Linked DNA regions of Homo sapiens. The protein of the gene in region 4 purifies or fractionates together with the protein of the main gene of each other region. This does not show direct contact. Each region holds a gene or a part of one and is shown on either strand. Other genes may lie near its edges.

Region 1 (3,500 bases), on a different chromosome or scaffold from region 4:
ATAATCTAGATACTAAATCAGCTGCTGAACTGCTGGCCTGGGTACTCACTATTGTGATCTTTAAAATAGCTCATTTGTTCATTTATTGGTTATCTACCATGTGCCAGACAGCGGCACAGCCAGCCACAAGAATGGATTTTTTTCTAACTCTGTGAGCTCTGGACATCATATACTATCTAGGTACCATTTAATTTCTAAATATCAGTAGGCTGCATGGTCAATGCCTGGCACAAAGAATGTTTGACACTGATGCTGATAACGGTGGTGGTAAAAGTAATAACAACAATAGCAGCAGCAACAACAGCAACCCCCATTTACCGAGTGTTTCCTATATCCCATGTATCAGCTAAGCACATTATATACATGATCTCACTGAATCTTCACAATACTTTCAGGTAAATATTATCCCAGTTGTTAGGACCTACAATGCTGGGTTTCTGAAAAAGACACTCTGAAGTTTTCTAGTGAACAGTTTCCTCTGGAACTTACTTTTGATTTACTGTGTCGTATAAGGGCAGACAGCAGTCTGTTTGACTCCCCCATCACACCAGCATGATCTTTGGCTTCACACCATTCCACCAAACGCTCCACTAACTTAACATTCTTTCCCAATTGTTCAGCAGCTTCTGCTATAGGAAAGAAGGCAAACCAAGGAATGAATCACTAACAGACAATCAGTTGAAATAATTCGTACAGATTTGAGAGTGTGAAGGACGTCTAAAAAAACACAGCACGACAATTTCATTAAAGCTAGAACTGCAAATATTCCTTATGTGATGGGCTATTTGCCTTCTTCTGTAACACTGTGAAATTTTATAGAAAATACAACAACAAATGACTTCATACTCTTTTGGTTAAGCCTGCTAGTCTGTTAGTGCTCTGGCGGACTATAATGCAGGGTTCTTAGAAAGACTCTATGCAATCAATATAGAAAAGGGTTTAAAATTTAGAAATAAGTAAATAAACATAATTCATTCCTAGGAGTGGTTCTGACTGCTGTTTCTGCAAACAGAAAAATGCTCTCCCTGTCTGGAAGACAAATTTAAAAAATTTTTGACTGTCACAATAATGAAATTTGATTTCAAAGCCAAGGTAAAAATGGGTATAGAATGCCAAAACACAACACCCCCTGCCGAAACTGATGAATAAAGCAACCTAAAACCAGGACTATAAGTACTAATAAGGAGAGATATGGTATAATTTCTATTTAAAGTCAATTATAGGCTGGACATGGTGGCTCACACCTGTAATCCCAGCACTTTGGGAGGCTGAAGTGGGTGGATCGCTTGAGGCCAGGAGTTCAAGAGCAGCCTGAGCAACAAGCCCCATGTCTAGTGAAATTCCAAAACAATTAGCCAGGAGTTGTGGAGCATGCCTGTAATCCTAGCTACTCAGGAGGCTGAGGCAGGAAAATTGCTTGAACCCAGGAGGCGGAAGTTGCGGTGAGCTGAGGTCGCACCACTGCACTCCAGCCTGGGTGACAGAACAAGACTCTGTCTCAAAAATAAATAAATAAACAAATAAATAAATAAATAAATAAATAAATAATATGTATAAATAAATAATTATAACAAGCATAAAAATTAACAAATGGAGTTCCAAAACCAACTTTTAAATCTTTTATTTGCTATTTTTTATGATTACATAATCCTAAAAGCTAAAAACAAGTCCTTTTTCAACTAGAGGCACATTAAGACTATCATATGAAAAATGCAAGTTGGGGAAAACATTTCTTTTACCTTGTGCATCTATTAACATTCTTAATGTTCCCAGAAGTTTGAACTGAACAGGAGGCATTTCAGATTTAAGAAATTTCAAAACTGCCTCTGTGACCCCAGCTGATAACATCTTTGCTTTATTTATAACTGGAGAAAAAGAGAGACTATGGTTAAAATGGTATTAGCATTCCTGTTGATAAACATTCAATTCAATACAGGTTTATTAAGTATCTTTAAGATCCATGTTTTATTTTTCCATTTAGAAACAATCTTGTCACTTTTTTGTCAATTTTAAGAATGGAATTCAGTTGTTTATGTGTGTGTCCGTATCCTATTTGTGTATAAGCGGATAACAGACAATATAATAATTTTTATGACAGTATCATGGCTTTTTAGATCCAATCCAAAACACTTACTTACATAGTTTGTAAAGGAAATCTGAAAATGTTACCCTCTTACAACAAAAAGCACAATTCCGTTTTTGATCCAACTGTGTTAATATAAATGTTATAGACATTAATAAATGTTACTATCCTATGTAAACCAAATGAATTCAAATGGATTGGATCATCATGTAATTGTACTATTTCATCTAATCAGAAATTTATTTTTAGAAAGTAGGATAAAAGAATAGTTTTAACTATCTTTTGTTGTATTTTCCATAATACAGTGATTTCATGACTTCCAAAGGCACATTAAGGCTATTTTAAAAAAATTGTACATCTGCTTATAGAAAAACAACAACTGAAAGTCATTCTTGAGTGGACTCTGTTAATTGATGTCATTATTCTACCTCAACTAAAGATGCCTAAGGCCTGGTGCAGTAGCTCTCACCTGTAATCCCAGCACTTTAGGAGGCAAAGGTGGGTGGACTGCTTGAGCCCAGGAGTTCAAGACCAGCCTAGGCAACATAGTGAGATCCTGTTTCTACAAAAAAAAAAAATCAGCTGGGCATGGTGGCACATGCCTGTAGTCCCTGTTCCTCAGGAGGCTGAGGTGGGAGGATAACTTGAGCTCAGAAGGTAGAGGCTGTGGTGAGCCAGGACTGCGTCACTGCACTCTAGCCTGGCTGACAGAGTGAGACCCCATCTCAAACTTAAAAAAGCTTAACTATAAAACATGATGAAAATCTAACAGTTCGCAAAAGGTAACAGGATATCTGAATGAAGGCAAAGATTATTCTTGTACAGTCTCACAAAACTTATTTAACATATGATCTCCATTTATTAGCATGAAAAAATGTGAACAATGTGAAGACTATTTTTTTTTAAATTTTCTTCATCAGAGCAGGTTCACAAATCACATACAGTTAATAGCTTCCCCAAATGATGGATTTTATTTTGTACACAGCTGCCTTCTATTCTTAAGTCTTACCTGGAATGGCCAGGTTTCTGAGGGCACTTAGTGCTGCATGCTGTACTGTTACATTTCCATCTTCTACATGTCTGTCCAGTAAATCCATAAGTTTTTCTACAATCCCATTGTCTACCATATGAATACAATTTGCATCTGAAAAAAAAAACACACATCTTTTTCTTCCTCTTTAAAATATCTATAAATACTTTATAATACTGATGTCTGGCTATTATCTACATTAGGGAAAATGGAGCTATACAATAAAATGAATTCCAAATCTTTCTCCCATCAGATTTATAGGTTTTTCTGTTTACTGAGTGAGAAGTGTTAAAAAAAATTCTTAAACTAGATAAAAGTTTTAAAATCAGAAAATTACCAGAAAAATCTTTAGTTTAGAGCCAGATAATATATCAGAAGTAGAAACAC
Region 2 (3,500 bases), on a different chromosome or scaffold from region 4:
AAGTCATGAAACTGAGGCAGATGGCCATAAATGTAAACATCACTAAGATTAGATTTAAGTTTTGGGGGTTTTAACCTATTTTTTAATCTAATATTTAATCTGTTTTTCTAAAACAATGATTCCAAAACACTATACATATTTGTGTGTGTGTGTGTGTGTGTGTGTGTGTGTGTGTGTGTAATTGGACTGGATATGTGAAAACCATAACAGATTCCACCTGCATGGAATTATCTGTGGCACTTGCTGAAAAATTAGAATAATGCCTCAGCTCACAAGGGGCAAGGCAAACTTTTCAAATGAAAATTTTTAAATCTACTTAAAACTACCTATGCCTTCCATAAGCATTAATGAGTCTAGTAGATAAAAGGATGATTCTGTAGATGCCAGTGGAATTTGGGATTCAGTGTCTGGCATAGTTATCTTCACAGGGAACTGCAGAAGCTATTACTTAAATTGTTCTGATAAAATCATGTTTTATCTTGGGAGAATTAAGAATGCTATTCTTATGTTAAAATAAGTGATGGTAGAGAAAGCAGGGAATATAATCAGTAAAATTTGTATGGGTTTAGTAAATTTTTTGCATTTACCCAAAGTTCTATTTAAGTCTACTTTCTTTATATAAATGCACAATTTCTTAGAAGAATTTTCAAGAAAGGGAGAGGAAAGCTAATGAGTGCTTCAAAGCTAATAAAAATATAGTTTTTTCAGGAAAAATGATACTAGGCTTAGTATTGCTTAAAGTTCTTGTTCACGATTGAACGAATGAATAAAAACTATACTCATTAAATATTTAATATCACCATGTTGGGTGGAGTGATTCAAACCTTGAAAAACAGGCTTAGAATATTTTATGAGTATGACAGTTTGGAGTAGCTTGATGAAAACAGGATGAAGTTGTTATTACCACCACTTTGGATGGATAGTGTCATGTTGACTTATCTGTGAGGAACTTGGGGAGCTTTCACATACTTATTTTCAAAACTACCTTGTGCTGCAGGAAACCAATTTTATCTTTTCCATAGGTAGGGCAATTAGAACATGAAGACATTGTGACTCATTCAAGGTTGTAGGCCAGGCGCAGTGGCTCATGCCTGTAATCCCAGCACTTTGGGAGGCAGAGGCGGGTGGATCACCTGAGGTCAGGAGTTCAAGACCAGCCTGGCCAACATGGTGAAACGCCATCTCTACTAAAAATACAAAAAATTAGCCGGGCATGGTGGTAGGCACCTGTAATCCCAGCTACTCGGGAGGCTGAAGCAGGAGAATTGCTTGCACGTGGGAAGCAGACGTTGCAGTGAGCTGAGATTGTGCCACTGCATTGCAGCCTGAGCAACAAGAGCAAAACTCCATCTCAAAAAAAAAGAAGAAGGTTGTAGTTAGTGAAAGATAGAAACTGAACATAGGCTTTTCAACTCTCAGGTCCAGACCTCTGTTCCTTACAGTAGTGTTTGCAAACTGGTGTTCTCCTCAGGATCACCTAGAAAGCTTATGATAACAGACTGCTGGACACTACCCGTAGAGTTTCTGATTTTAGTAAGCCTGGGATGGGCTTGAGAATTTGCCTTTCTAATAGGTTCCCAGATGACACTGATGCTGCTCTCCAGGGAGCACACATTAAGAGCCTCTGCTCTACACCAGTGGCATACCACCCTTTTCAAGTTAAGGCAACATATAAAATGATAATTTGTGTATGATACCCTGGACTAAACTGCAGAGCTCATTCTTAGCTTGAGGTAAATAGCCCAAAACAATAGACCTTGTAACTGAGGAATCAGTATTAGTCCATGAGGGGTCCTCAACAAAAGAAGAAAAATAGAACAGTTCACAGAGCATTTCTTAGAGCTAAATAGATTTAATTTAAAGGACTCTCTTTTATTCTAAAATTACAACCTTCCTAATCCTTTGGTGTTAAAATGCCATTTCTTTCACAAAAGGATTATGATCATAAATGGTTTACTTAATATCAAGCCTTATTTGGAAATCTTAGAAAATGACAACCTCAAAAAAACACTAGAAAAAAAACCAACAATCTGAGGTTGATCAAGATTTTTGTTATTGTTTTGGTCACTGAAATCCAAAAGTTTGGAAATCATTGCTTCAGAAGTACTACTGTCTTCTCATCCATATAACATGGAGTATTACGACTAAGGAAAAACCACCAGCAATAGCTGAACGGGTGAAAGGGAATTATTACCCATCCCAGAAACACTCTGAAATTTTTCCACAGAACTACAGCCAGATGCTGTTGTCAGGGTATATATACCAGAATTTACTTCCTTAACATATATGCCTTCCTCAAATTACCAAATAGAATTTATTTTATTAATTCAAAAGTAAAAATATTCATTTATGGTCTCATCAGGAATGAGTTTTGTTGTAGATGGAATAGCTAACAGCTATTTTTAGAGAATCAGCAAAAATCCAATCTTTCCAAAAATATCTCTTTCACTGCTCCTAAAATTCACATTTTTAGAATCTTTTTGTGTGTGTATGCAGTGTTTTTCTAGAAAGCCTTTTTTAAAATTTATTTATGGGGCCAGGCATGGTGGCTCATGCCTGTAATCCCAGCACTTCGGGAGGCCGAGGTGGGCAGATCGCTTGAGGCCCAGAGTTTGAGACCAGCCTGGGCAACATGGTGAAACCCCATCTCTACTAAAAATACAAAAAATGATCTGGGTATGATGGTGCATGCCTATAATCCCAGCTACTCAGGAGGCTGAGGCAGGAGAGAATCACTTGAACCCGGGAAGTGGCGGTTGCAGTGAGCCAAAATTGCACCACTGTACTCCAACCTAGGCAACAGAGCGAGACTCTGTCTCAAAAAAAAAAAAATTATTTATGATGAGAGACATTAAAACATTACAAAATTAGGCCAGGCACAGTGGCTCAATGCCTATAATCCCAGCATTTGGGGAGGCCGAGGTGGGAAGATCACTTGAGGCCAGGAGTTCAAGACCAGCCTGAGCAACGTAGCAAGACCCCATCTCTATAAAATATTTAAAAATTAGCTGGGCATGGTGACATGTGCCTGTAATTCTAGCTACTTGGGAGATTGAGGTAAGAGGATTGGGTAAGCACAGGAGTTCAAGGCTGCAGTGAGTTATGATTGCACCACTGCACTCTAGCCTGGGTAACAGAGCAACATCCTGTCTCTAAAAAAAAAGAAAAGGCTAGGTACAGTGGCTCACACCTGTAGTACCAACACTTTGGGAGGCTGAGGCAGGTAGATTACCTGAGCCCAGGAGTTTGAGACCAGCCTAGGCAACATGGAGAAACCCATCTCTACAAAAAATACCCCCCCCAAAAATTAGCCGGGCATGGTGGCACATGCCTATGGTCCCAGCTACTTGGGAGGCTGAGGTGGGAGGATCACCTGAGCCCAGGGAGGTCAAAATTGCAGTGAGCCGTGACTGCGCCACTGCACTCCAGTGACACAGTGTGAGACCCTGTCTAAAATAAATTAATTTAATTTAAAAATAAAAATAAATTTAAAAAGAAAA
Region 3 (3,500 bases), on a different chromosome or scaffold from region 4:
TTGAGCTGCATCTCCTGAATCTCCATCTTCTCCTCATCCTTCATGGCCCGGTTTTCTATCACCTTCATTCCTCTGCAAGGAGCAATCTCATCAGGACGGCCGTTCACTCACACCCCTCCACCCACCTCTCATCTATCTTTTCTTTCAGATGGAGTCTCGCTCTGTCATCCAGGCTGGAGTGCAGTGGCACGATCTCAGCTCACTGCAACCTCCACCTCCCGGGTTCAAGCGATTCTCCTGCCTCAGCCTCCTGAGTAGCTGGAATTACAGGCACCCGTCACCATGTCTGGCTAATTGCGTGAGACACCACCCCTAGTCCCATCTCTCATCTAAATGAGTCTCTGAATCTACTGAGCACTGTAACACACTGCAAAGATGGAACTCTGTGCACACATTTCCTTCATCTTGGTTTTTTTTTTTTTTTTTGAGATGGAGTCTCGCTCTGTCACCCAGGCTGGAGTGCAGTAGTGTGATCTCAGCTCACTGCAGCCTCCATCTCCTGGGTTCAAGCAATTCTCCTGTCTCAGCCTCCAGCATAGCCGGGACTATAGGCATGCACCACCGTGACCGGCTAACTTTTATATTTTTAGTAGAGAGGGGGTTTCGCCATGTTGGCCAGGCTGGTCTGGAACTCCTGACCTCAAGTGATCTGCCCGCCTTGACCTCCCAGAGTGCTGGGATTACAGGTGTGAGCCACCGCGCCCAGCCTCCCTTCATCTTTACTACCAGGCACTTTTCTAAGTGCCTTCACTTTCACAACTGCCCTATGGAGCAGGTAAATTATCCACATTTTACAAATGAAGAAACTAAGGCATAGAGAGAGGGTAAGTAACTTAAGGTTACAGAGCTGGTAAGTGGTAGAGCTGAGGCTCAGCCCTTGGCAGTCTGACTCCAGAGTCTGTGCCCCCTTTCTTTTTCTTTTATTTTGAGAGATGGTGTCTCACTCTGTTGCCCAGGTTGGAGTGCAGTGGTGCCCTGAGAGCTCACGGCAGCCTTGTCCTCTCAGGCTCAAGCAATCCTGTTGCCTCGGCCTCCTGAGTAGCTGGGACTATAGGTGTGCACCACTGCACCCAGCTAAACTAAAAAAAAATTTTTTGTGGAGGTGGGGGTTTTGCAATGTTGCTGAGGTAGGAGGATCGCTTGAGCCCAGGAGTTCAAGGCTGCGGTGAGTCGTGATTGCACCACTGCTCTCCAGCCTGGGTGACAGAGCAAGACGTTGTGTATTTATTTATTTTTTTTCTTGAGACAGGTTCTCACTCTGTTGCCCAGGCTGGAGTGTAGTGGTGTAATCATAGCTCACTGCAACCTTGCCTTCCTGGGATCAGGTGATTCTCCCACCTCAGTCCCTTGAGTGGCTGGGACTACCAGCATGCACTACCATGCCTGGCTAATTTTTAATATTTTTTTGTAGAGATGGGGTCTCACTATGTTGCGCAGGCTGGTCTCAAACTCCTGGGCTCAAGCGATCCGCCCGCCTCCCAAAGGGCTGGGATTACAGGTGTGAGCCACCGCACCCTGCCAAGACCTTGTGTATTTAAAACAAGAAAAGAAAAGAAAAGAAGAGGCCAGCCTGGGATAATGTGTCATTGATATGTATCATTCCCACCCAGCACAGAGACCATATGCTTCTTGCTGTCCAATAAATATGTTCACGTGGGGTGTCACCCGTTCTCAGCTAAGTCTCAAAACACCCTCCCCCACCTGTACGAGGTCTCACCCTCAGCATGTGAGCAAGCTCTCTGGGTTATTTATTGCCCCAAAACCCCTTGTAGTACCCAAGAGATCAAAGTGACTTGCCTAAGGCTCCATAGAAAGTGCCAGTGGTAGAAGCTGACTCTAGATCCCCAAGCTTCAAGTATATAATTCTTTCTACTGAGACACAGCAGTCTTTAACAGGGGTGTCACCAAAGGCCTCTGGGGACATGGTGCAAACAAGAGACTGGCCTTCGCAGCCTCCCTTGGTTTGCCAATATGGGAGCCCTCAACGTCAGCATCCAGCCAGGCTGGTCTGACTGTGAACAGCAGCTAACCCAGGCCACAGGCACAGCCAGGAACTCTCGTGACTGGGTCCTTCCACTGCCCCGTGGCTGCCGGAGCTGCCACTCTCTCCCTTGATTCAGTGGCTGAAGCAGAGTCTGCAGTAGCGTCTGTTCCCTCTGCCCTGGCTGTTCCACTACTTGGGAAGAAATTTCCAGCTTGGGTGACATGCAATCTCCAAGATTCCTTAGCTGGTTTCTAATCTCTGGTTAGTGGTCACAGCAGCACAACCAGAAATGCATCTTAAATTAGCTAGGCGTGCCAGCACTTTGGGAGGCCAAGGCAGGTGGATTACAAGGTCAGGAGCTTGAGAACATCGTGGCTAACACGGTGAAACCCTGTCTCTACTAAAAATACAAAAAAATTAGCCGGGTGTGGTGGCGGGTGCCTGTAGTCCCAGCTACTTGGGAGGCTGAGGCAGGAGAATGTCGTGAACCCAGGAGGTGAAGCTTGTAGTGAGCTGAGATCACGCCAGTGCACTCCAGCCTGGGCGACAGAGCGAGACTCTGTCTCAAAAAAAAATTAGCTGGGCATGATGGCATGCGCCTGTAGTCCCAGCTTTACTCTGGAACTCTGGAGGCCGTGGCGGGAGGATCGCTTGAGCCCAGGAGGTCGAGGCTGCAGTGAGCTGTGATCGCACCACTACATTCCAGCCTGGGTGATAGAGTAAGACCCTGTCTCAAAAAAAAAAAAAAAAAAAGAAATGAATCTTTGGGAGGTGTTTATACTGCAAAAGCATGGTGGCTGGCTCAAGTGAGAACTCCGGTGTGAATGAGGGGCAGACGCGATGATCACTGGTCGGGCCCACACCATTGCCACACAAGGAACTCCTTTTCCACCACACACAGACTGCTGCTTCTGTGAATTACACAATCTACCCTCAGTCTTCCAGAGAGCCTGTGCCAAGGCGTGCCAGAGAATGATCTGGCTACCGAGGAGAAGGCACCCTACTGGTGGCTGGGTTGCAGCACAGATACCATGGGCGGGTGAGGAACGTGGTCAGTTTCTTTTTGAGACAGAGTCTCACTCTGTTGCCCAGGCTGGAGTGCAGTGGTGCGATCTTGGCTCACTGCACCCTCTGCCTCCTGGGTTCAAGCTGGGGGATCTTGCCTTAGCCTCCTGAGTAGGTGGGATTACAGGTGCCCGCCACCACGCCCAGCTAATTTGTGTATTTTTAATAGAGACGGGGTTTCACCATGTTGGCCAGTCTGGTCTCAAACACCTGACCTCAGTTGATCCACCCGCCTCGTCATCGCAAAGTGCTGGGATTATAGGCGTGAGCCACGGCACCTGGTGCATGGTCAGTTGCAAGTACATTAACCATGCTGGTTTGCAACTGTCCCTGAAATAGCTGTCACCGTCCAAAAGCCTAAAGCCTGACAGCTCTGCTAACAATCACCTGTGCATCCCAAGTTTCCTTTCCTCCTCTCCACAGTACTCTGCTTTTTTTTTTTTTTTTTTTT
Region 4 (3,500 bases):
TCAAAGGAAGGAGTGGTTGAAGAGGGTTAATCGTCATCTCTCTGGCTTTAGGTGCCCTGCAGCCTTGGCAAGGGCATTCCACTTCCTGACCTGTGTTCATTCAAGCAGCCACCCTGGGAGGTGCGCTGGGTGGGGACAGTTCTTCCTGTTAAGAACGCAAGTGGTGGAGGGGGCCTTTGTCAAGGTCAGAGACAAGCACCCTGTGAGCCAGAGGCCAACCAGTCCCCAAGGTCAGCTGCCTGCCAGGCCATTCTAAAAGCACCAGTTCTTCCAGGAAGCTGTCCCCAGCCTTCCCAACCGGGAATTAACCTCTGGGCCTCAGTTTTCTCATCTGTGAAATGGAGATGTGAAAAGTGAGCGAGCCTTGATGACAGTCATAATAAAGATGGTTAATATCGACTCTCTTTCTCTCATATAAAAGTCATGGTCTAGACCGGGCGCTGTGGCGCATGCTTGTAATCCCAGCACTTTGGGAGGCTGAGGCGGGCGGATCGCTTGAGGTCAAGAGTTCAAGACCAGCCTGGGCAACATGGTGAAACGCTGTCTCTACTAAAAATACAAAAATTAGCCGGATGTGGTGGCATATGCCTGTAATCCCAGCTACTTGGGAGGCTGAGGCAGGGGAATCACTTGAGCTGGGGAGGTGGAGCAGAGATTGAACCACTACACTCCAGCCTGGGCAACAGAGTGAGACTCTGCCTCAAAAAAAAAAAAAAAAAAAGGGGGGGGGGGCGGGGTTTGCTCTGTTGCTCAGGCTGGAGTGCAGTGGTGTGATCATAGCTCACTCCAGCCTCAACCTCCTGGGCTCAAGCCATCCTCCTGCCTCAGCCTCCTGAGGAGCTGGGGCCGCAGGTGTGTACCACTGTGTTACATGCCAGGTCTAGCTCAAAGCCCTTCACCTGGATTAACTCATCTTTCCCCCAAAAGCCCTACAAGGTAGACACTATTGTTGGCCCCATTTTACAGGCTGAGAAACGGAAGCACAGAGAGCTGGAGTGACTTGCCCCAGGCCACACAGCTAAGGGGAAGCTTTGTAAATAACAGAGGACCTTACTGGAGTATTTTTTTTTCTTAGCCTACCCCAGAAAACAGGAAGGAATCCTCACCCTACTTGTCCCAGCCCTGACCAGGTGAGGAAAAATGTCAGCCCTCTCAAGAAAGAGGGCCTCTGGAAAGGGAGAGGCAGCCAGCTCCGACTCCAGCACCTCCTCCAGGTTGCCTTCCTGGCTTGACTCTGCCCAACCCAGCTTTCCCTAGAATTCAGTGTGGGCCTTTGGGGCGTGGGGGTGGTGGGGGGACCAGGCCTGCAGAGGACTACTTCCGTGTGCACCAACCCCATGCCCACTTGGGGATGGGGGAGCGTACTATTAATAAATACCTTCTCTCATATGAGTCAGGAGGGTCAGGTTCCATTCACTCATGCACATTCTGGGCAGGACTGTTCAGGGCAGCCTCCACATCTCGAATTGACGCCCACATTTCCCTCTCTGGGTGTCAATTTCCTTATCTGGGAGAGGGGGTGATAACAGTGATAACCCTCCCCCTAATCTGGAAGGTGAAAGCCCAGGAGAAGGGAGGCAATGCTTAGAGCGGGAGCAGTGCAGGGGCAGGGGTGGAGTGGGGGGCAGTGCCGGGAGGCAGGAGGACTGCTATTGTGGTTACTGTTGAAACTTCCAGGAGAAGTTAATAGCCTGGCATGGTGGGTGGTCAGAACCCCAGAATCTTTGGACCCAGAAGCTTCAGGGGCCTCCCAGCCACCAGGTGATACCATTACCCTCCACATTCTACCTAAAATGATACCAGGGCTGAAAGGGTCCATGTCACCTGCCCGTAGTCACAGAGGGGGCCCATCCAGCCTCTGCAGATGGGCTTAGAGGTTAAAACAGCCCAGGTAGACCAGGCGTGGTGGCTCACACCTGTAATCCCAGCACTTTGGGAGGCTGACATGGGAGGATCACTTGAGCCCAAGAGGCTGTGGCTGCAATGAGTTATGATCATGCTATGGCACTCCAGCCTGGGTGACAGAGCGAGACCCTGTCTCTAACCATTCCCCACCTCAAAAAAAAACCCAGGAATTACATGCAAAGGATGCACGTGCTTCTGGTGAGGAAGTCTCTAGGCCTGGGCTCCCCCTAGAGCCGCCCATCGTCCTGACGTGCACTCAGGCGGTGCGGCAGGGCTGGGCGGAAGGGAGGCTCATGCCGCACACAGGGCTATTTTCTTGGTGGGATGAGGCTTTGCCAAGGAAGTCCTGCTTCCAGGGACAGGGGTCTCTAAGGCCCAGAGCAGAGTTGAGGAAAAAAGACCTCAAATCTGCAGGAGGACACACAGGGCGGGTGGACCCCAGCTCCAGCTGCGGCGTTGGTCAGGGAGGGGTACTGGCAGCATGAGAAGTGAAGCTGCCAGAAGAGGAACCCACTTTTACTCACTCTGCTGGGGGCCGCCCACCTGTGCTTTCCCAGGGAGACAGGGGCTGGGCAGCCCCAGCTGGGAGTTGAGACCACCTTCTGGGTGACCCCAGCCTTGTCTCAGCCCAGGCCTCCGGTGCTTCTGGGGCTCACAACACACATCTGTCCCTGGTTCCTTGTCTTAGCAAATCCTACTCCATTGCCTAACAATTTTCTTTCTGTTCCCATCTCAGGCTGAAAAGGGGACCACCGCTCCCCGGGCAACCCCTATCCCATCCTGTGCCCCTCTAACCCTGGACCCCACACCTTGGCCCTGATGAGCTCACTCTCCCGTCTGTGTCTTCACAGCCCACCTCACCCCGCCTCCCCCGGCCCAGGAAACTTCAGACTTCACCGCAGCTTCCTGCCTCAGAGGATGTCAGGGCCCCGGTGAGGCCGACAGAGCAGTGAGTGCCATGGCCCCCGCCCCTTCCCTTCTGAGCCCTGCGAGCCCCGTCACCCGATCTGCCCTCCCTCCGCTGTGGTGTCTGTAACTACTTCCTCAGGAGGGAGACAGCCACACGGGCCTTCCACGAGGGCCCCTGTGGGCAGCGTCCGGCCCCTGCCCAGGACCAGCGTTTGGTCCTGGGTGTGGAGAAATTCAGCCTCTGAGAGCCACCCCTGTCTCACAGCTCTGGTGGCCACCAGTCGGGAAGATGCCCCTTCCGCCACTGTGTGTGGCCCATTGGGTTCTAGAACTTTCTACAACTACGTTTACTAGACTCATTTCTGGCTTGGCCATTCCCTCACCCTCTTGGCCTTTGCCTCTCTCTACGTGGCCGCCTGGCCATGGCTTTCTGTCCTGTTCTCCTGAGAGCCGTCCACCTGCAGGCCGAGATGAATCATCTCCGGCATTCGGATCCACTACCCATTCATTCCATCACCTTCCAGGCCTTGCTCCATGACAAGCACTGGGACCTGGGCTCTCCCTGGTGGCACTCACTGACCAGGGGATTTCCTCCTATGAGCAAGCCTTCCCTGGTCACGGGGGGATACCCTACAGGGAGCAGCCAGATCTCTTCTCCCTGGGTGCCCCTCCTTGGGGTCTGTCAG
Region 5 (3,500 bases), on a different chromosome or scaffold from region 4:
CAGGCTGGTCTCGAACTCCTGACCTCAAGTGATCCACCTGCCTTGGCCTCCCAAAGTGCTGGTATTACAGGCTGGAGCCACTGCACCCAGCCTTATTTCTGTGTTTCTGTAATCATTGTGCATGTTAACAGACTGCCTTGGGTGAGTCAGGACAGGATTTTGGCAAAAGAACCAGGCCCTTTCTGCCTGGAGCTGTCACTCCTGTGGTGAGGTGCGGGTACGACGTGCCTGTAGCCTGACCTGAGAGGAAAAGCTCCTGTCTTATGAAAGGGCCCAGGGGAACCTCTGGTTGGGGCCCTTTGACCTGACCTGACAGTGAGGGAGGAGTCCGTAGAGGAGAGTGGCCCAGTGGAGGACTTTGGCTTTGCCTTGGGTGAACTGGGAAGCAGGTGGAGGGAAGCAGACTGACTGTCTCCGATAAGGGTGGCTTTGTGGAGAGGAGAGGAGGGGAGGGGAGGCCACAAGTTTAGGGTATCACAAGGAGCAGGCCACAGATGGAAGGTTATGGGGTGGGGCACGTGGCAGGGCAGCCCTGTGTCCACAGACACATCCCGCCAAGGGGACCCAGAGACTTGAGTGTGTCAGGGCTTGGGGTGAATGGGCACTCAGCTGTTACAGCTGGAAGGTAGAGCATGTGAGCTCCAACAGACACAGGCAGGTGGGGGTTAAAGGAGAATCTTCATAGCAGTGCTTAGAATAGCAAAAAGTGGGAAAACCAGCAAAAAACTATCAATAGGAGATTAATTAATTCCATTATGGCACCTGGAATGTGCCGAGACCAGCTCAGTCGGGGAGACCGTAACCCAGCGGCGCTAGAGGAATTAAAGACACACACACACAAATAGAGGTGTGAAGTGGGAAATCCGTGGTCTCACAGCCTTCAGAGCCGAGAGCCCAGAACAGAGATTTACCCACGTGTTTATTAACAGCAAGCCAGTCATCAGCATTGTTTCTACAGATATCAAATTAACTAAAAGTATCCCTTATGGGAAATGAAGGGATGGGCCAAATTAAAGGAATAGGTTGGGCTAGTTAACTGCAGCAGGAGCATGTCCTTAAGGCACATATCTCATGCTACTGCTTGTGGCTTAAGAATGCCTTTAAGCAGTTTTCCACCCTGGGTGGGCCAGGTGCTCCTTGCCCTCATTCCCATAAACCCACAACCTTCCAGCCTGGGCGTTAGGGCCGTTATGAACGTGTCACAGTGCTGCAGAGATTTTGTTTATGGCCAGTTTTAGGGTCAGTTTATGGCCAGATTTGGGGGGGCCTGCTCCCAACAGAATGGAAGGAATTTTTGTCAGCGTTTAATAAGGAGCTTTGTGCTGGTCGAAAGTCAAGAGGTACACAGTATACTCAAGGGCAGTATTGAAGAGCCGATTCCAGAGCGGCTTCCCTCTGGAGCCAGTGGGGCAGTTTGCAAATCCAGGCAGATCAGCTTCTTGGAGGTTTCTCCAACGGGAGAATCTCCCAAGAGTGAGGCTTGCATGTGGGTGGCCTGTGTTATATATGCAATTTTAAATGATCTAGTTGCCGCATTAAAGAAAGGCGGGGCAGGGGGCCGGGAGTGGGGGACTCTGGGTGCCAAGACTCAACATCTGTAATCCCAGCCCTTCAGGAGCCCAAGGCAGGTGGATCACTTGAGCCCAGGAGTTTGAGGCCAGCCTGGGCAACATGGCAAGACCTAGTCTCTACAAAAAATACAAAACAATTAGTCAGGCGTGGCGGTGCACACCTACAGTCCCAGCCCCGTGGGAGATTGAGGTGGGAGGATTGCCTGAGCCCAGGAGTTGGAGGCCGCAGTGAGCTGTGACTGCACCAGTTCACTCCAGCCTGGGCAACAGAGTGAGACCCTATCGCAAAAAAAAAAAAAAAAAAAAGTAGTGAACCCGGGAAGCGGAGCTTGCAGTGAGCCGAGATCGCGCCACTGCAGTCCGCAGTCCGGCCTGGGCGACAGAGCGAGACTCCGTCTCAAAAAAAAAAAAAAAAAAAAAAAGTAAAAACCGGTAAAAGCAAAAAACTATGTTTTATATTCAATCCACTATTTTGATAACAATCAATTATTGTAGATTATTCATATTTTACACTGTTTTCCGTAGTAAGTCTTTGAAACCCAGTGTGTAAAGAAGCTTAAAGCACATCTCCATGTGGACGGGACGCACGTGGCCAGCGGCTCCTCTGAGGGACAGTGTGGTCACGCAATGGGTGGCGTGTGCTGCCTGTATTTAGAAGGTCCCCATGTGGGTGTTTTTGCGAAGGCTCTGAGGGATGTGCAGGGGAGGGCCGACACTGTCCCAGCCACGCAGAGGACCCTGGAATGCAGCATGCTGCCGCCGCGCCCCCGCCCCAGCCCCTCTGCTACCTGAGCTCTTTCCCAGATGTCCATTTGGCTAAACTCCCTCAACTTCTTCCCTTTCCTTCTTTCTCCAAACGTCACTCTCAGGCAGGTCTGCAGGCTCTCCGATTGTCAATGGCAGCCCCTCCCTGTCCTCCACACCCTCAACACCCCCCACCCCGCTTGTTATTTTTCTCCTTAGCACTTACGGCCATCCATCCATGGGCATCATGCATTTGTTCACTGTGTTTCTTGCTTTCGGGTCTCTCCTGATCGGAACAAGCTCTTCCAGGGCCAGAGGCTTCCCATCTTGTCACTGATGCATCCACACAGAGCCCAGCAGAGGTGGCACTTGGGGCACCCGAGCTGGACAGTGGGTTGGTGGTTGAGTGAAGAGCCCTACAGATTTATCTCAAGCCCTCCCCTGACCCTACTAGAAGACACGGTGGTCTGCACAGTCCAGGAGGTCAGAGAGGCCCCCCAGTTCGATGACTTTGAACTGGCAGGGGTGGGGAGGGAACAGCACCTTGACAGAATCTGCCTTTGGCATCCCACCTCCCCATGCCTACATAATCCCTACATTATCAAAGGAAAGACCCCTAGAAGGAACTTTGGCAGCAGTAGTGAGATCAGCGCGGTGTAAGCTCATTTTCTAACAAAGCAGCGGGAGGAGTCGGCAAACTGACTTTATTTCTCAAAAAGAATTTATGCATTGAAATTAACAAGTGAGTGATCAGGAGTGTGGGAAAATTCAGGAAAAGTGGCTCAGTGCTGTGAGAGAGGGCGAGGCAGGGAGCTTTATTACTCCAGACAATGGAGGAGGTAAAAGATAGACCCAGATTATTTCATTAGAGTTCATCTATTCTTTACTTTTTTTTTTTCTTTTTTTTTTTTTTTTTTTGAGATGGAATCTCACTCTGTCACCAGGCTGGAGTGTAGTGGCGCAATCTCGGCTCACTGCAACCTCCACCTCCCGGGTTCAAGCGATTCTCCTGCCTCAGCCTCCCAAGTAGCTGGGACTGCAGGCGCTCACCACCATGCCCGGCTAATTTTTTTTTTTGTATTTTTAGTAGAGATGGGGTTTCACCCTGTTAGCCAGGATGGTCTCGATCTCCTGACCTCGTGATCCGCCCACCTTGGCCTCCCAAAGTGCTGGGATTACAGGCAT
Region 6 (3,500 bases), on a different chromosome or scaffold from region 4:
CTTTGGCCTCCCAAAGTGCTGGGATTACAGGCGTGAGCCACCATGCCTGGCCAGAGCCTATTTCTTTTCTTTTTTTTTGAGACAGAGTCTTGCTCTGCCACCTGGGATGGAGTGCAGTGGTGTGATCTCAGCTCACTGCAACCTCTCCCTCCTGGGTTCAAGTGATTCTCCTGTCTCAGCCTCCCAAGTAGCTGGGATTACAGGCACGCACCACCACGCCCGGCTAATTTTTGTATTTTTTTTAGTAGAGATGGGGTTTTGCCATGTTGGCCAGGCTGGTCTCGAACTCCTGACCTCAGGTGATGCGCCCACCCACCTTGGCCTCCCAAAGTGCTGGAATTACAGGATGAGCCACCATGCCTGGCTGGAGCCTATTTCTGAAACAACCGAGCCCTGTGCTAAGAGCCTGAAAGAATAGCTAGGTGCCCTGCTGATACAAATGTGGGCTTGGTCACTTCTCAGCTGTTCAGACAATCTGTGTCAAACACTCCTGTCCACGGGGTCAACCCCAACCACAGCCGGGACTGTCACTCATGGTGACTCGTCTAGGCTGGCTCACGATAGGGTGCTATCCAAAGTCAGACACGCCAAGGGCATGTGTTCTGTCATTCTGTGTTGGAAGGGCCCGCTGGTGGCATTAACCTTTGTTTCCTGGCCCCACCCACACCGGCTCTCACTCAAGTACTTGGTCAGCCACTGAGATTCCAAACCCTTTGGCCATTCAGAGGCTGCTGATAGGTGCCACCAGGCCTGGGCTGCCAGGAGACCTAAGGATGGTCTGCAAGGCCTGCTGAACTGACACTGCCTCAGCGTGACCTTGGCTTCCATGCACAGTGCTCCCCGGGCTGCAGGCTGGCACCCTGTCTCCTCACGAGCTGCTTCCTGTCACAGCTTAAGCTTCAGCTCCTGCCAGGCCCCCCCAGCCCTTCTACTCCACTGGGACAGCCCCTAGCGCCAGCTCCCGCAGCAGCCTGTGCTCGCTCCGAGACGACACAAATAACTGATGTTTATTTTTTGTTTGCGTGCTCTGCTTTCCCCATGAAGGCTGAGGAGTGGACAGGGGCTGTGTGTCACTCCCCGCCAGTACCCGGCATCCAGCACTGTGCTGAGTGCACTTCAGGCTCAGTAAACCCCAGAGGGGTAATCCCAGCACTCTGGGAGGCTGAGGTGGGCAGATCACCTGAGATCAGGAGTTTGAGACCAGCCTGGCCAACATGGTGAAACCCTGTCTCTAATAAAAATACAAAAATCAGCTGGGCATAGTGGTGCGTGCCTGTGATCCCAGCTACTCGGGAGGCTGAGGTAGGAGAATCATTTGAACCTGGGAGGTGGAGGTTGCTATGAGCCGAGATCATGCCACTGCACTCCAGCTTGGGCAACAGAGCGAGTCTCCGCTTCAAAAACAAAAACAAAAACAAAAAACCCTAGAGGGAAGCCAACAAGCCTTAGAGCTCTATCCCCCAACACTCCATTTCTGAGGCTGCCTCCTTTGCTTCAGCGGTAACTTCCTGTGTGCTGTTTCTGTGTTGTAAGCACAGTCAAACCCTTCCTGAAAGTAGATGGGGTATAAACCACAAACAGAACAGGTTTAGAGGGAGGCCGGGTAGAGAATCTTAGTTAAGAGCAGGCTGCACGCGGGTGCTGACCAAAGACTGGTTTCTATAGAGGGAAACAGCGCAGTGCAGGTCTGCCTGTGAAGTGAGCTGGGAAGGGTCTCGGGCAATCCTGGGGCCCTGAGTGCCAGTCTCAGAGCCCCATGGCCCTGCCTGGCAATAGGCTGCTCCCCTCACCCCAGGGTCTACCTTGGCCAGCCGTGCCCGCTTGATCAGGTCATTGAGCTTCCTGAGGGCGGCGTTTCGGGGCAGTGACTGGATGTCCTTGAAGAGGTCCTGCTCCTCGGCCTCAAAGAGCTTGCGGTTGTCGGGGATGAGGAGCGGGTGGGACCAGAAGGAGCCGATGTAGACCCTGACCACCTCGGGGGTGTTGATGATCTTGCCCAGGGACCACATGAGGGCCCCGTACACCCGCATCAGCTGCTGCGTCTCGATCTGGTCTGCCTTGTTCAGCACCACGCGGATCTTGTCCTCATGGTTCTTCAGAGCCTTGATCACTTCCGAGAACTCATCGGAGATGTCCAGCTTGTGGGCGTCGAAGAGCAGGATGATGCGGTCCACACGCTCCGCGAACCACTCCAGGACGGCTGCAAAGTCATAGCCTGGGGGGAAGAGAAGGGAGAGCTCAGGGGCGCCAAGGGACCTGCTGCTCTGATGGCTCTCATCTCCAACCTGGCCTGGTATTTCTCAGCCTGAGATAGTTTTTAAAATTCCTATAGGCCGGGCGTGGTGGCTCACGCCTGTAATCCCAACACTTTGGGAGGCCAAGGTGGGAGGATCACGAGGTCATGAGTTTGAGGCCAGCCTGGCCAACATAGTGAAACCCTGTCTCCACTAAAAATACACAAATTAGCCGGGCAGGGTGGCGCGAGCACTCAGGAGGCTGAAGCAGGAGAATCGCTTGAACCCAGCAGGTGGAGGTTGTGGTGAGCCAAGCCCATGCCACCGCACTCTAGCCTGGGTAAGAAGAGCAAAACTGTCGCGAAAAAAAAAAAAAAAAGAAAAGGCCAGGCACAGTGGCTCACACCTGTAATCCCGACACTTTGGGAGGCTGAGGTGGGTGGATCACAAGGTCAGGAGTTCAAGACCAGCCTGGCCAACATAGTGAAGCCCTGTCTCTACTGAAAATACAAAAATTAGCCCGGCATGGTGGTGGGCACCTGTAATCCCAGTTACTCGAGAGGCTGAGGCAGGAGAATTGCTTGAACCTGGGCGGCAGAGGTTGCAGTGAGCTGAGATTGCGCCACTGCACTCCAGCCTGGGCAACAGTGTGAGACTCCATCTCAAAAAAAAAAAAAAAAAATAGCCGGGTGTGGTGGCACATGCCTGTAGTCCTAGCTACTCAGGAGGCTGATGCAGGAGAACTGCTTGAAACCAGGAGGCAGAGGTTGCAGTGAGCCGAGATTGTGCCACTGCAGTCCAGCCTGCGTGACACAGCGAGACTCCGTCTCAAAAAAAAAAAAAAAATTCCTAGGTGTTCATCTAGACAGCACAGCACCCTGAGGGCAGGATTATCTCCCCTATTCCTGCCCCCACCATAACACTCCCCAACCCATGTAGCACTTGGCATAAACAGGTGCTAATGCAAAGGTCGTCCCACAGTGCAAGCTCTAAGGTGGGTCAGAGGAGGGCGAGAGTGAGGAGGAGACCCAGCACTGTGCTCAGCACAGCACAGAGGGTAGAACATAGACTCCAGTGTTGCCACCTGCCTGCTGTATGCCCTGGGACGGTAGTGACAAGAGGCGCCTGCAAAAGTAACTGCAGCTGCTACTTTTTCAGTGCTGATGTGCCAGGCTCCCCATTTTGCAGGAATCTCACTTATTTTCTGCAACAAGGGTTGGCAAACTACAGCTCAGGGATCAAACCTGGCCCACCACCTGTTTGTAT
Region 7 (3,500 bases), on a different chromosome or scaffold from region 4:
TCTTTGCAGGTGAATCACAGTTCCCAGCAACCCCTGGGCTGGTCAGCCTTCTTAGCAGCCAGAATTACCCTGTGTCCCTTTCCTGGACTCTGGGCTTGTGAGGGCTTAAGGGGTGGGGCCCTGGCTGAACCCTGAGGCTGGAGAAGGGTTGGGGCTTCTGCCTGGGTCCTCCCCAGAGTCAGGCTGAGGCATTCAGAGCCCGTTCCTCCCATCCTCTCCCTCTAGTCTGGTTCCCCAGTGGCCACCTTCAAGCAGCACGTGGCCCCCGTGACCTCCGTCGAGTGGCACCCCCAGGACAGCGGGGTCTTTGCAGCCTCGGGTGCAGACCACCAGATCACACAGTGGGACCTGGCAGTGGAGCGGGACCCTGAGGCGGGCGACGTGGAGGCCGACCCCGGACTGGCCGACCTCCCGCAGCAGCTGCTGTTCGTGCACCAGGGCGAGACCGAGCTGAAGGAGCTGCACTGGCACCCGCAGTGCCCAGGGCTCCTGGTCAGCACGGCGCTGTCAGGCTTCACCATCTTCCGCACCATCAGCGTCTGAGGCGTCCCACTGGCTCTGATCTTGCTTCCTGCTTGGAAACTGAAGTCGAATTGGGCTCCCCTGGAAGGGGTTCATTCAGGTCTGTTGACTGAGACTGGCCGGCCTGTGGGCTGCCGTGATGGATTCTGTTTGACGTATTGTTCTCTAGAAGGCCTGGCTCTGATCCAGTGACCCCTCTCACCAAAGAACTCGGTTTAACCAGGGCTCTGTAAGACCACTCCCACCCAGAGACTTGTGTGGCCTGGTGTGGCCTGTGTGTCGGATTCCTTCCTGTCAGCTGTGACCCATTTGACCTGTGTCCCCAGAACCCAGTTTTTTGTTTGTTTGTTTGAGACGGAGTCTTGGTCTGTCGCCCAGGCTGGAGTGCAGTAGCACGATCTTGGCTCACTGCAACCTCCGCCTCCTGGGTTAAAGTGATTCTCTCAGCTCAGTCTCCCAGGTAGCTGGGATTACAGGCATGTGCCACCACACCCCGTTAATTTTTGTATTTTTAGTAGAGACGGGGTTTCACCATGTTGGCCAGGCTGGTCTCAAATTCTTGATCTCAAGTGATCTGTCCGCCCCGGCCTCCCAGAGTGCTGGGTTGGGATTACAGGCGTGAGCCACCGCGTCCGGCTCAGGACCCAGTTTTGGCTGCTGGTTCCCAGCAGGGGACTCGGGGGATATACAGTGGCTGCACCAAATTGGAGGTGTGGGTTCCTCCAACACAATTTGCTTCTGCCCGTTGTCTTCCTGCCAGCTGGGTTTGGCCAGGATTTCTCCGTGTGGGGGCTACATGCGACCCTCTCCCCTCCTCCCTGACTTTAGAGGCTGGTGCTGTGTCGGGAGGAAGGTCAGGGCTCCTGAGCAGCAATAAAGGACCAGGAAGAGGCCTGAGGTGTATTTGAGACTCTGGTCCTTTGGCCACAGCCCTATGAGGAAACGGGGTGTGGGGGGAGTTTGGGGGTGGGGAGGAATTTGGCACCAGCTGCCCCCAGGCCGCTAGGCTGGGGGAGGCCACTGGGAGTCCAGTGCAACCCAACCTTCCGCCCACTGGGTGCCGCCGCGTTCTGCCTTCTCTAAGTGTCCTTCCATCTGGAACTCACTCTGGCTTAGTGAAAGGGGCCTCATCCCTGACCCCCACCAGCTTATGAAGGCTTCATCTCAGGGAACTCTGGACCCCCCATTTCTCCCTCCGTCCATCTCCCCTTTATCACGTTTCTTTCTTTCTTCTCTGTGTCCCCCTCTTTCAGAGTCTCCCGTCCCCCACTGCCAGTCTCCCTGCCCCCTAGTCGCTGTCTCGCTCCTCCGCCGCTGTCTCCTGTCCAGCCTGCCTGGGCTGTGGCCCAGCCGCTCTGCCTGGCTGGCCTCCCTGGCTCCCCCTCTGCGGCTCTGAGCTAGCCCCACCCCCGGCCCCCCTCCATCCAGCCTCTGATCCATCTGTGGACTCCGAGGTCGGGTGCCCGTCACACGGCCCCTGGGACCAAGGACAGACTACAGCCCCTCAGCACCCACAGAGGCTTCCCCTCAGCCCTAGCCGAGGAGCCCCCAGCGGAGGGCATGGGGGTGGGCCGCCCCAACAGGTACGTGCCTCCATGCAAGGCACCGCTGAGCCATCCCCTCCTGCTCTGCTGCGTCGCCCCCATCCACCCCTGCCCCAGCATCCCTGTCCTCAGCTTGTCCCCTTCAAGAAGGCCTTGTCTTCCCATCAGTGACAGGCTCAGCGCCAGGAGAATCCACCCCCAGGTTCAGTGCCTCCAACTCTCACCCCATCCCCATTTTATGCATTTTCTCACTGGCTTCCATCCTTTCAGAGAAACCCTCTCAGTCTGTCTGTCTCTGTCTCTGTCTCTCTCCCCCATCTCTGTCTCTCCCATCTCTCTCTGCCTCTCTCTGTCTTCACAATTTCATCTCCCCATGTCGCCATTTCTTAAAACATTTCTTTTCTCCTTTTCGTTTTCCCAATTGCCCTGTCCGCCTCTATCTTCTCTGTCCCCCTCCATCTAGGTCTCTGTCCCCCCCTCTCTCTGGGTCTCTGTCCCCCTCTGTCTCTGAGTCTCTATCCTCTCAAGGTCTCTGTTCCCCTCTCTCTGGGTCTCTGTCCTCTCTCAAGGTCTCTGTCCCTTTCTCTCTGGATCAATGTCCCTTTCCTGCTGCCCTCTCTGGGTCTCTGTCCCCCTCTCTCTCAGGGTCCCTGTCCTGCTTGGTCCCTGTACTTTTTCTTGGGGCACCCTCTCAACACCCCTCCTCCTGCCTATCTCTGCATCTCTTTGTCTTTCTGTAGTCTCTGCTTTCCAACCTGCTGTCCAGCCCCCACCAGTAGGTGGGGAGTGGTGGGGAACACCCCTGGTTTCGGAAGAGTGAGAGTGTTGATTTGGGAGGGTGAGGGTGGGGCCTGGGGGCGGGGCTTCTTGGCCTCAGATTAGACAGTGACTTTGACACGAAGTTGAAGCACCTTAAGCCCTGTATCTCCTTTATATGGAAACATTAAGCTGCTCTCGCAGGTCAGGTGGAGGATCCCTTTCCCTCCCGCCCTGCTTTTGCTAGGGGAGGGGGGTGCCCTGAGCCTGAGTCGCAGCCAGCCTGGGAGCTGGGCCATGTTGGCCGCAGATGGCCCCCTGGTGAAGGTTCCCGTTGGCTTTGGGAAGTAGACAACGGGTCTGCCTCACGGGGCTGAGGTGGGACTGGAGGATTTCGAGGGCAGAACTCTGGGAAGGAAAGAAAGGCTTAGGACCCAACCAGCATTCCCCCTGGCACTGCGGGGGCCTGGCCAGCTCATGGCGTTCCCTGAGCCTGTTCCCCAACTGTGAAAGGGGGTGATGATCTTCACCTCCCGGCATCCTGAGCGGCCAAGGTGAGCAGTGGGGTCTGAGAGTCCAGTGGGGGCTGTGGGCATGTCGGGAGCTCATCACGAGGCCTCGTACATACCAGGTGTGTTTGAAACCAGAGTGCTCTTGAGAAGACTGTGGTTTGTCACT

Evidence for each region.
Region 1: the proteins of RHOF (region 4) and RAP1GDS1 purify together in Homo sapiens (co-immunoprecipitation; 3 studies listed by BioGRID and IntAct, with this or other methods). This does not show direct contact.
Region 2: the proteins of RHOF (region 4) and PHACTR4 purify together in Homo sapiens (affinity purification with mass spectrometry, with the first as the bait; one study listed by BioGRID). This does not show direct contact.
Region 3: the proteins of RHOF (region 4) and TPM4 purify together in Homo sapiens (affinity purification with mass spectrometry, with the first as the bait; one large-scale study listed by BioGRID). This does not show direct contact.
Region 5: the proteins of RHOF (region 4) and PFKP purify together in Homo sapiens (affinity purification with mass spectrometry, with the first as the bait; one study listed by BioGRID). This does not show direct contact.
Region 6: the proteins of RHOF (region 4) and EHD1 purify together in Homo sapiens (affinity purification with mass spectrometry, with the first as the bait; one study listed by BioGRID). This does not show direct contact.
Region 7: the proteins of RHOF (region 4) and GRWD1 purify together in Homo sapiens (affinity purification with mass spectrometry, with the first as the bait; one study listed by BioGRID). This does not show direct contact.

The regions. Positions count from the first base shown.
Region 1 is NC_000004.12:98,418,384-98,421,883, reverse strand, and holds part of RAP1GDS1 (rap1 GTPase-GDP dissociation stimulator 1), read right to left. Parts: intron 3,228-3,500; coding exon 3,093-3,227; intron 1,866-3,092; coding exon 1,740-1,865; intron 630-1,739; coding exon 490-629; intron 1-489. UniProt on the Homo sapiens protein: Acts as a GEF (guanine nucleotide exchange factor) for the Rho family of small GTP-binding proteins (G proteins) that stimulates the dissociation of GDP to enable subsequent binding of GTP.
Region 2 is NC_000001.11:28,467,240-28,470,739, forward strand, and holds part of PHACTR4 (phosphatase and actin regulator 4), read left to right. Parts: intron 1-3,500. UniProt on the Homo sapiens protein: Regulator of protein phosphatase 1 (PP1) required for neural tube and optic fissure closure, and enteric neural crest cell (ENCCs) migration during development.
Region 3 is NC_000019.10:16,082,995-16,086,494, reverse strand, and holds part of TPM4 (tropomyosin alpha-4 chain), read right to left. Parts: intron 73-3,500; coding exon 1-72. UniProt on the Homo sapiens protein: Binds to actin filaments in muscle and non-muscle cells. Plays a central role, in association with the troponin complex, in the calcium dependent regulation of vertebrate striated muscle contraction.
Region 4 is NC_000012.12:121,787,189-121,790,688, forward strand, and holds part of RHOF (rho-related GTP-binding protein RhoF), read right to left. Parts: exon of another isoform or gene 2,967-3,500; intron 1-2,966. UniProt on the Homo sapiens protein: Plasma membrane-associated small GTPase which cycles between an active GTP-bound and an inactive GDP-bound state. Causes the formation of thin, actin-rich surface projections called filopodia.
Region 5 is NC_000010.11:3,074,048-3,077,547, forward strand, and holds part of PFKP (ATP-dependent 6-phosphofructokinase, platelet type), read left to right. Parts: intron 1-3,500. UniProt on the Homo sapiens protein: Catalyzes the phosphorylation of D-fructose 6-phosphate to fructose 1,6-bisphosphate by ATP, the first committing step of glycolysis.
Region 6 is NC_000011.10:64,858,122-64,861,621, forward strand, and holds part of EHD1 (EH domain-containing protein 1), read right to left. Parts: intron 2,216-3,500; coding exon 1,803-2,215; intron 1-1,802. UniProt on the Homo sapiens protein: ATP- and membrane-binding protein that controls membrane reorganization/tubulation upon ATP hydrolysis. In vitro causes vesiculation of endocytic membranes. Acts in early endocytic membrane fusion and membrane trafficking of recycling endosomes.
Region 7 is NC_000019.10:48,452,483-48,455,982, forward strand, and holds part of GRWD1 (glutamate-rich WD repeat-containing protein 1), read left to right. Parts: intron 1-225; coding exon 226-543; 3' UTR 544-3,500. UniProt on the Homo sapiens protein: Histone binding-protein that regulates chromatin dynamics and minichromosome maintenance (MCM) loading at replication origins, possibly by promoting chromatin openness.